2 linked regions of the Homo sapiens genome follow. The protein of the gene in region 1 purifies or fractionates together with the protein of each later gene. This does not show direct contact. Each region holds a gene or a part of one and is shown on either strand. Other genes may lie near its edges.

What was found. Proteins that work in one complex are often made in the same cells at the same time.
Region 2: the proteins of RBBP4 (region 1) and CBX5 purify together in Homo sapiens (affinity purification with mass spectrometry; 6 studies listed by BioGRID and IntAct, with this or other methods). This does not show direct contact.

Annotation. Positions count from the first base shown.
Region 1 is NC_000001.11:32,653,156-32,658,455, forward strand, and holds part of RBBP4 (histone-binding protein RBBP4), read left to right. Parts: intron 1-4,271; coding exon 4,272-4,417; intron 4,418-5,300. UniProt on the Homo sapiens protein: Core histone-binding subunit that may target chromatin assembly factors, chromatin remodeling factors and histone deacetylases to their histone substrates in a manner that is regulated by nucleosomal DNA.
Region 2 is NC_000012.12:54,269,533-54,274,420, reverse strand, and holds part of CBX5 (chromobox protein homolog 5), read left to right. Parts: intron 1-4,888. UniProt on the Homo sapiens protein: Component of heterochromatin that recognizes and binds histone H3 tails methylated at 'Lys-9' (H3K9me), leading to epigenetic repression. In contrast, it is excluded from chromatin when 'Tyr-41' of histone H3 is phosphorylated (H3Y41ph).

The sequences.
Region 1 (5,300 bases):
AAATTAGTTATAATTAGCATAAAAGTGGTACAGATAAAATTATCAGAGGAAGGAAAATTTGCCTCAATTTGCCTCATTTCTTAGGAAGAAATGACAATGCAAAAAACAAAGAGGAGGGTAAATTTAGATGATATTAACATAGTTTTAACAAGACCATTGTGCCATTTGGAATAATGGATTTTCTGGTACAAAAGTAAGTTTTCTGAATTACATTCAAAAGCGATTGTATGCTAAGTAAATTCCTTCAAAACTTGGATCTTTAAAAGTTAAGATAATTGCAAAATGTTATTAGACTATGATGTAGCTCAACAAATGATAGAAATTTGGCAGAAATTATACTAGTAACTTAAGAATGAGGCTGCTACCTTTACAGTGGCATAAGGAAAAATAGGGAAATGTGTCCTAGGGATGTTACACAAAACCATAGTAAAAACCTAGAAATTGGGAGTTAGAAGCTGCTTTGTGTGTTTTTTGTTTTCTGGTTTTTTTTTTTTTTTTTTTTTTGTTTTTGTTTTTTTTTTTGAGACGGAGTCTCCTCTCTTGCCCAGGCTGGAGTGCAGTCACGTGATCTCCGCTGACTGCAAGCTCCGCCTCCCGGGTTCACGCCATTTTCCTGCCTCAGCTTCCCAAGTAGCTGGGACTACAGGTGCCGGCCACTACCCCTGGCTAATTTTTTGTATTTTTAGTAGAGCCGGGGTTTCACCGTGTTAGCCAGGATGGTCTCAATCTCCTGACCTCATGATCCACCCGCCTCGGCCTTCCAAAGTGCTGGGATTACAGGCGTGAGCCACCGCGCCCGGCCTAGAAGCTTCTTTATCATGACCAGGAGTTCCCACATGCAATTGATCATCAGAATTGCTTGGGGAATTCAGGATAATTGGAATCATTTCTGTCAAGAGTTTTCAGTGGTAATTCAAACCATTTAGGAACTTATGGGCTGGTCATGGTGGCTCACACGTGTAATCCCAGCACTTTGGGAGGCTGAGGCAGGCAGATTGCTTGAGGCCAGGAGTTCCAGACCAGCCTGGGCAACATGGTGAAAAGCCCGTCTCTACTAAAATTACAAATATTATCCGGGCATGGTGGTGCGTACCTGTTAGTCCCAGCTCCTCAGTGGGGGCTGAGGCAGGAGGATCACCTGAGCCTTGGGAGGTCAAGGCTGCATTGAGCTGTGATCCTGCTACTGCACTCCAGCCTGAGCTAGGGATTGCCACCCTGTCTCAAAGAAAAAGAACTTGTGGCAGAGTACTTAATGAGAAGTGTACTGGAATGGTGATTCCACATTTACTATAGTCATATGCTAAATTGTGCTTATTGGACTAGTGGATCACAAATATTGGCCATCCCATACCTACTAAACATTCTAGAACCCCTACTTTTCAGAAACTTCCCAAGTAATATAATAGAATGACTAGCTAGGTTTCGAAAGCAAGAATTAAAGACTTAATTCCCCAAGGCTGAAATCTGTACTGTCATCTTAGTAGTTTTCTGCATTAGCAAATCTAGATAAATAATGTGAGAATTGTTTTTTGTTGTTGTTGTTGTTTTGAGACGGAGGACGGAGTTTCACTCTTGTTACTCATACTGGAGTGCAGTGGCATGATCTGAGCTCACTGCAACCTCCGCCTCCTGGGTTCAATCGATTCTCCTGCCCCAGCCTCCCAAGTAGCTGGGATTACAGGCACCCGCCACCACGCCCAGCTAATTTTTTGTATTTTTAGTAGAGATGGGGTTTCACCATGTTGTCCAGGCTGGTCTTGAACTCCTGACCTCAGGTAATCCACCCGCTTCGGCCTCCCAAAGTGCTGGGATTACAGGCGTGAGCTAGTGCACCTGGCTGAAAATTGTTTTTGAGACAGGATCTTGCTTTGTTGCCCAGACTGTGTTGCAGTGGCACGATCAGAGTTCCCTGCAGCCTTGACCTCCTGGGCCAAGGAATCCTCCTGCCTCAGCCTCTGGAATAGTTGGGGCTACAGGCACACGCTACCATACCTGGCTAATTTTTGAAAAATTTTTTTGCTATGTTGTCCAGACTGTTCTTTAACTTCTGGGCTCCAGTGATCCTCCCACTTTGACCTCCCAAAGTGCTGGGATTACAGACATGAGCCACCGTGCCTGGCCCTGTTTTTGTTTTTTAAGATGAGGATTACTTACAAGCAAGCAGCCCTGATGCAGTGTTTACTTTTGTGTGTGTTCTTTTTCTGGTGTTTACCCAGATCCGTTTCCCCCCTTTAAAAAGAAAGAAAAACCACGGTTGTAGTTCTGTAACACTGTCCTCTCCTTCATTCTTTTTCTGGTTCTTGTCTAACCTTCTACATACAGGTAATTCCAATTTTCTGTTCATATCTCTCTTCATTTCTTTTCAGTGTAATGTAGAAGCTCTCAGAGCTTTGCCTGTGACATCTGTGCAGAAGAATTCCTATTGATATCTTTAGACCTCACTTCTCCAGAGCTTTTCCTGATTTTTCTTCTGCCTGCCCGTGTCTTCCCTGGTATATCTTACTGGCTTCCCCAGTTTGACATGTTGTAAATGGAATTATTCCTTACGTGAAGGCCTTACCCCAACTTTCTCTCCTGTTGTTCCTATTTCTTTTCATCATAATTGGCTTTAGTTTGACATTTTCTCTTTCTCCATTTTATAGGCAGTCAATTTATAAACCCCAATGAATTCTGGTTGTGTAGCATCTTTCCCATCTAGGCCAGGGGTTCTCAAAATTTTATATGCATCATAATCAGCTGGAGGTACTGTGAAACAGTTAGTTGTGCCCCACCTTCTAGAGTTTCTGATTCAATGGGTCTGGAGTAGATGTGAGAATTTGCGTTTCTAACAAGTTCCCAGATGATGTGGATGCCCTTGACCCAGTATGGAGTACAGAATGCCTTAAGACGGCATTCAGAACACTAAATAGTCAGTTTTAATCGGCCTTCTCTCCCACTGTGCTTTCCCATATCAGAAGTCAGATTTGGACTTCAGCATACTTGTTACTTAGTAGCTGTGTGATCTTAGGCAAATTGTTTAATTTTCTTTCTTTTATTTATTTTTTTCTTTTTTGAGACAGGAAGTAGTCTTTCTCTGTCACCCAGGCTGGAGTGCAGTAACACGATCTCTGCTCACTGCAGCCTCCGCCTTTCGGGTTCAAGCGATTCTTGTGCCTCAGCCTCCCAAGTAGCTGGGATTAGCCAGCCGCCGGTTTTTTTTGTTTTGTTTGTTTTTTGAGACAGAGTCTTGCTCTTTCGCCCAGGCTGGAGTGCAGTGGCACCGTCTTGGCTCACTGCAACCTCTGCCTCCTGGGTTCAAGCAGTTCTCCTGTCGCAGCCTCCTGAGTAGCTAGGACTACAGGCACCGCCACCACACCCGGCTAATTTTTGTATTTTTAGTAGAGACCGGGTTTCATCATGTTGGTCAGGCTGGTCTCGAATTCCTGACCTCAATTAATCCACCCTCTTCGGCCTCCCAAAGTGCTGGGATTACAGGTGTGAGCCACCATGCCTGGCCCAGCTGCAGGTTTTTTGAGGTCAGGAATCATGTCTTAATTGTCTTTGTACTTCCATCGCGTTTGGAGCGATGTGTCCATTGATAGGCGGTTAGTAAATGTTTGAAAAATTGGTTTATGTTATTTACTCTTCTTTCCCTTTTTTCATTCTTTTCAATTTCTTTGCACCCTTTCCCCTTCTTTCCTTTTTAATGAAAGTTTTAGTAAGCAAAATTATTAGCATACCCAACAATGGTTTGCTTTCCCTCCAACCTGTTGGTAGTGAGTGAGTAGTTAATTCACATTTTATTCCATAAAACGTTTTACTTTTTCTCCAGAGTAATTAAGTAGAAAATATGGCTCTTGGCCAGGCACGGTGGCTCTTGCCTGTAATCTCTGCACGTTGGGAGGCTGAGGTGGGTGGATAATTTGAGGCCAGGCGTTCGAGACCAGCCTGGCCAACATGGTGAAATCCCGTCTCTACTAAAAATACGAAAATCAGCCAGGCATGGTGGCAGGTTCTTGTAGTCCCAGCTACTCGGGAGGCTGAGGCATGAGAATCGCTTGAATCCGAGAGCCAGAGGTTGCAGTGAGCCAAGATCGCACCACTCCATTCTAGCCTGGGCGAAAGAGTGAGACTCTATTTATAAAAAAAGAAAGAAAGAAAAGACCCTTAATGACTTTTTCCCCTCTCTTAAAACCTGGTTGTATTAGTGACTTTGACATACATGTATATTGTTGACTTCGCCGTCTCCTGATGTTACTAATTTGAACAGTGACTATATATTGCCGTTACAGACCAGAAGGGAAAGATTTCAGCATTCATCGACTTGTCCTGGGGACACACACATCGGATGAACAAAACCATCTTGTTATAGCCAGTGTGCAGCTCCCTAATGATGATGCTCAGTTTGATGCGTCACACTACGACAGTGAGAAAGGAGGTAGGAATCTTAAAGGTGAAAGAAGTAAAGATGTGTGGGTCATATCTGTTATGTGCACTTTGATAAAGTAAACTCTGACTTTAGAAACAATATTTAAGGTTGAGGGAAAGCCTGAGTTTGCAATGGTAGGTATTTATATTTATATTAGAGTTTTAGGTATCAGAAGAAATACTTAACACATCCTTGGTTCTGTACCTTCACAATAAACTTTTCTCAGCTGGTGCTGGTGGGGAGGATTTCTGCAATTGAAAGAAGCAAAAATATATATTATTGCTGTACATTCTTGATTTTTTATTTTTTTACTCAGTCTCGCTCTATTGCCTAGGTTGGAGTGTAGTGGCACGATCTTCTCTCACTGCAACCTCCGCCTCCCGGGTTCAAGCGATTCTTCTGCCTCATCCTCCTGAGTAGCTGGGATTACAGGCGCCCGCCACCACGCCTAGTTAATTTTTGTATTTTTAGTGGAGACAGGGTTTCACCAAGTTGGCCAGGCTGGTCTTGAACTCCTGACCTCAGGTGATCCACCCACCTCAGCCTCTCAGAGTGCTGGAATTACAGGCGTGAGCCACTGCACCCATCCATATTGCTATACATTCTTAACACGGGAGATAACTACCCCTAAGGAGGTGAAAATTGGTTTGTGTATGTGAGTAGGTGTAAATAATCTTACTGGTTGATTGTTTAAAGCACAGATATGCACAGAGGACATAGGATATCTATGGTATTAAAATTTCATGGGACTGGTGGGGAGGGAATAGTTCTTAAAAGAGTTCTTAGAGGAGCAATAGTAAAAAAAAAAAAAAGGTTGAGAAACACTAACTTAAATTACCCTTTCTAGGTTTAAAGTGGTAGAAATGACTTAACCATGGCACTCTCTATGTGT
Region 2 (4,888 bases), on another chromosome or scaffold:
CTGCTATTCGTGAACTCGGACTCTGGGCAATCATCTTTTTCTCCTGATATAAACTTTTATTTTTCTTCCTTGCTTATAGAGAATGATTTTAACTGATCATTGTACTAATAGGAAGGAGTCCAGGTCATCCTGAGAAGAGTTCGCTTGTCCAGAGTCCAAGATGCAGATTTGTTGGATTTCTGTAAGCCACTCGAAGCCACATATTCATTTCTGATGACAGCTTTACACTTGTGCTGGAAGAACACCCACTGTGACAACTGCTGCCTATGTTTAGTCTGTCCAGGAGCTCTACCAACTAGCATGTTTGCAGAAAAACCTACACTGTTCTTGTTAGCAGCTATGTAAATATTAGATCTTTCTGAGTTTCTCTTCTCAGATCTGCCAATTTCTTTGGGGCAAATTGTATCCTGCAGTAGCCTCAATTTACCCTTTGAAATGAGGGATTAAAGGTTTTAGACATTCTTTGGGTTATCTGAAACACAATTCTTTTTGGATCAGTAATGTTTTATATATGTCCACTTTATGATGTTTAAAATTTTATTCCCCCTATGTATTAGTTTCCTGTGGCTGCTATAACAAATTACCACAGACTTGGTGGTTTAAAACAAGAGGAATTTATTCTTCTCAAAATTTTGGAGCCCAGAAGTCTGCAATCAAGATATTGAGGCCCCTCTGGAGGCTCTAGGAGAGAGACTGTTCTTTGCCTCTTTTAGCTTCTGATTATGGTCAGCATTCCTTGGCATATCTCTCTGTTCTGTTTTCACATTGTCTTCTCTTTTGAGTACTTGCATCAGAACTCTCCCTCTACCTGTGTATTATAAGGATACATATGATTGCAATTAAGAAACCACTTGGATGAACCAGGATAAATTTCTCCAATCCTATCTTTTAATTCAACCTGAGAGAGCAGATTTAAAATATATTTTATTCCTAAAGTGGCAGGTCCCTGAAAAAAAAATGTAGATTCATGTTTATTTTGAGACAGAGTCTCGCTTTGTCACCCAGTCTGGAGTGCATTGGTGTGATTTTGGCTCACTGCAACCTCCGCCTCCCAGGTTCAAGCTATTCTCCTGCCTCAGCCTCCTGAGTAGCTGGGATTACAGGTGCCTGCCACCGTGCCCGGCTAATTTATGTATTTTTGATAGAGACAGGATTTCACCAGTTTGCCAGGCTGGTCTAGAACCCTTGACATCAGGTGATCCGCCTGCCTCAGCCTCCCAAAGTGCTGGGATTACAGGCATAAGTCACCGCGCCCGGCCGGATTCATCTTTTAATCACATCTTTTGCTATATAAAATAACATTTACAGGTTCAAGGGATTAAGATAAGAATCTCTTTGGGGGAGGGCCATCATTCAGACCACTACACATTGGTTCCCTAACCTCTACCCAAATAGATTTGAGCTAATTCAGAAAAGAAAATGTTATTTTTAAAGAAACAGAGGCAAGTGAAAAAAGGCTCAGAAACCTGGGTTCTTGTCCTGCCTCTGCCATTATCTAATGGTGTAACCATGGGTGAGCCATTTGCCCTCTTTAGTCCTTAGTTTCTTTATCTTATAGGGAAGGAGTTGGATAAGTGATCGTTAACAAGCCTTCTAGACCTAAGACTTTATGAAGTGATTCCTAAGTCATCTTGGAGTTTGTTTTTTAAGTCAATAATTTAAAATGTGAATCAAAACATTACAAATTACAACATTTTGGGTGAGGGTAGTCCTGTTCTTGCCTAGGACTTGAAGGATGGAAGACTGAGCTGTTGGCTGACTGTCAACTCCTTGGGGTATTAACACAGGATAACTAACCTGTATTTGTTAGCTGTGTGCTTAAACCTTTCTGAAGAAAAGATTTTCTACAAGGGATGTAATAGACTAGCTGGAACATTTTCACTACATTTTTAGTGAGACTATAGACTGTGTAGCCTGAATTTTCTTTCCAGTAGTAGTAGTTCATCAAAATTAAACACTGACAGATTTTTTTCTACCTGAAACTAGGTCATAGAGTAAAAATTTTCACTTGCAGTCTTACTCTTCAGACTCACTGAATGCCTGTTCCATCCTGTTTCATTGCTAGGAAGGACACTAGATAAAGCCATGAGCTTGAGATGGTGTACTTGAAAGGACCGTTTCAAGATCAGGTTTTATAACACACTCATTATTTATTTCTTCTGTGGAGAGGAGAAACCAAATTGGATTCAAGTATTTTTCTGATAGTAATCTATGTTTCTTAGAATAAAGCAAGTTCATATCTGAGCCAGAGGGCATAATTATGTCAGAATAAAATATAATTATGTCGGAATAAAATGCCCTGTACTAAAGAGGTCAACTAACAGGCTGGGAAATCTTAAGTTTTGTTTTTAAGACAAATCCTTGAACTCTCTGTGCCTCGTTTCTCATCCCTAAATCTGTGCAACTCACCTCACAGGGAGTTGTGGAGGGTAATATACTGCTAATTTGTTCAGTGTTTCACAACAATAAATTATGCCTAAGATCTGATAAAACATAGCAAACCTCATTTATGTAAGTAGAGACAAGCATGGATAAGACTTACAGATAATAAAGAAAATTCATTAAAATTTTTTTAACTTCCTTGATTATTAAACATTTTTCCTTCTGTTTCCTATATATTTTCCAAAGTATTTTCCTATTGTTTTTCCATAATAGACTTATGAGATAGGGCAAATAACAAACACCAGGTTATATAATAAATGAATAAATTCATCAAGCGGACATAACAATCCTAAATGTCCTAAAAGCTAATAATAAAGCTTCAACATACACAAAGGAAAACAGAAATGAAGTAACAAGCCAGGTGCAGTGGCTCACGCCTGTAATCCCAGCACTTTGGGAGGCTGAGGTGGGTGGATTACCTGAGGTCAGGAGTTCCAGATCAGCCTGGCCAACATGGTGAAACCCTGTCTACTAAAAATACAAAAATTATCTGGGCATGGTGGCGTGCGCCTGTAATCCCAGCTACTTGGGAGGCTGAGGCAGGAGAATCGCTTGAACCTGGGAGGTGGAGGTTGCAGTGAGCGGAGATCGCGCCACTGCACTCCAGCCTGGGTGACAGAGCAAGACTCCGTCTCAAAAAAAGAAAAGAAAAAGGAAATAACAGACATCTGCAATTATATTTGGAAATTTCAGTGCCTCTCAGTAATTGATAAAACAGGTAGATGAAATCAGTAAGGAAACGGAAGACTTGAACAACACTACCAACAACCTGATATAATTGACATTTATAGAATAGTACAAGCAACAGCAGAATACATGTGCTTTTCAGGTGCACATGGAACTTTTACACAGACAGTTTACCTTCTGGGTCAATAAGTCTCAAATTCAAAAGGATTCAATCATAAAGGTTTTTTAAAAAAATTTAAACGGGGTCTTGTTCTGTCACCCAAGCTGGAGTGCAGTGACACAATCAACTCACTGCAGCCTGAAACTCCTGGGCTCAAGTGATCCTCCTGCCTCAGCCTTCTGAAAAGCTGGGACCACTGGCATGTGCCACCATGCTCAGCCACCCACCCTTTTTTCTTTTTTTGTAGAGACAGGGTCTCGTTATGTTGCCCGGATTGGTGTCAGACCCCTGGGCTCAAGTGATCCTCTCATCTCAGCTTCCCAAAGTGCTGGGATTACAGGCATGAGCCACTGTGCTTGGCCAAGGTATGTTTATTTCCTGATCATAGTGCAATTAAATAAAAAATCAGTAACAAAGACATCAAGAAAAATCCCTAAATATTTTGAAATTACACAACACACTTCTAAGTAACCCACCTACAAAGAGGAAATTACAAAGAAAACTAATACTTGGAACTGAATGAAAATGAAAAGATGATATATCAAAACTTTTAGAATGAGGCTAGGTGCTGTGACTGATTCCTGTAAACTCAACGCTTTGAGAAGCTGAGGCGAGAGGATCACTTGAGCTCAGGAGTTCAAGACCAGCCTGGGCAACATAGTGAGACCTAGTCTCTAGAAAAAATTAAAAAGTATCCAGGAGTGGTGGTTTGCCAGTAGTCCCAGCTAGTTGGGAGGCTGAGGTGGGATGCTTACTGGAGCCTGGGAGATCAAGGCTGCAGTGAGCTATGATCCTGCCACTGCACTTGAGCCTGGGTGGCAGAGACCCTATCTCAAAAACAAAACAAAATTGTGGGATGCAGTTAAGGAAGTGCTTAAAGGGAAATTTATAGCATTAAGTACTTTAACAACAAAAGCAGGTCACTGACAGGTTTGGCCCTGTGAACCTAGAAAAAGAACAAATTAAATCCAAAATAAACAAGAAAATAGTAATGATAAAAGCAGCAATTAATGGGATATAGAACAATAGAGAATAGAAAAAAACGGAAAGTTCTTTGAAAAGATCAATAAAATTGATAAATCAGGAAAAAAGATACTAATTAACAATATTAGGAACTAAGGAATATCACTATTGATCCTACAGATAATAAGGGAATATTTTGAAAAACGATACGAATACATTCAATGTCTTAGTTGAAGTTAGTAACTTCCTTGAAGACAAACTACCAAAACTCACTTAAATACAGAACCTTGGGTGGGCATGGAGGCTTACACATGTAATCTCAACATTTTGGGAGGCCAAGAGTTCAAGACCAGCCCAGGAAACATAATGAGACCTCTCTACAGGCAAAAAGAAGAAAACGTCAGAACCTTACTAGCCCTATCTCTATTAAGGAAAAGGGATTTTTAGATAGAAATAATCCCACAAAGAAAACGCCAGGCCCAGGCCAAGCATGATGGCTCATGCCTGTAATCCCAGCACTTTGGGAGGCTGAGGTGGGTGGATCACGAGGTCAGGAGTTCAAGACCAGCCTGGCTAGCATGGTGAAGCCCCGTCTCTACTAAAAATACAAAAATGAGCCAGGCATGGTGGTGTGCT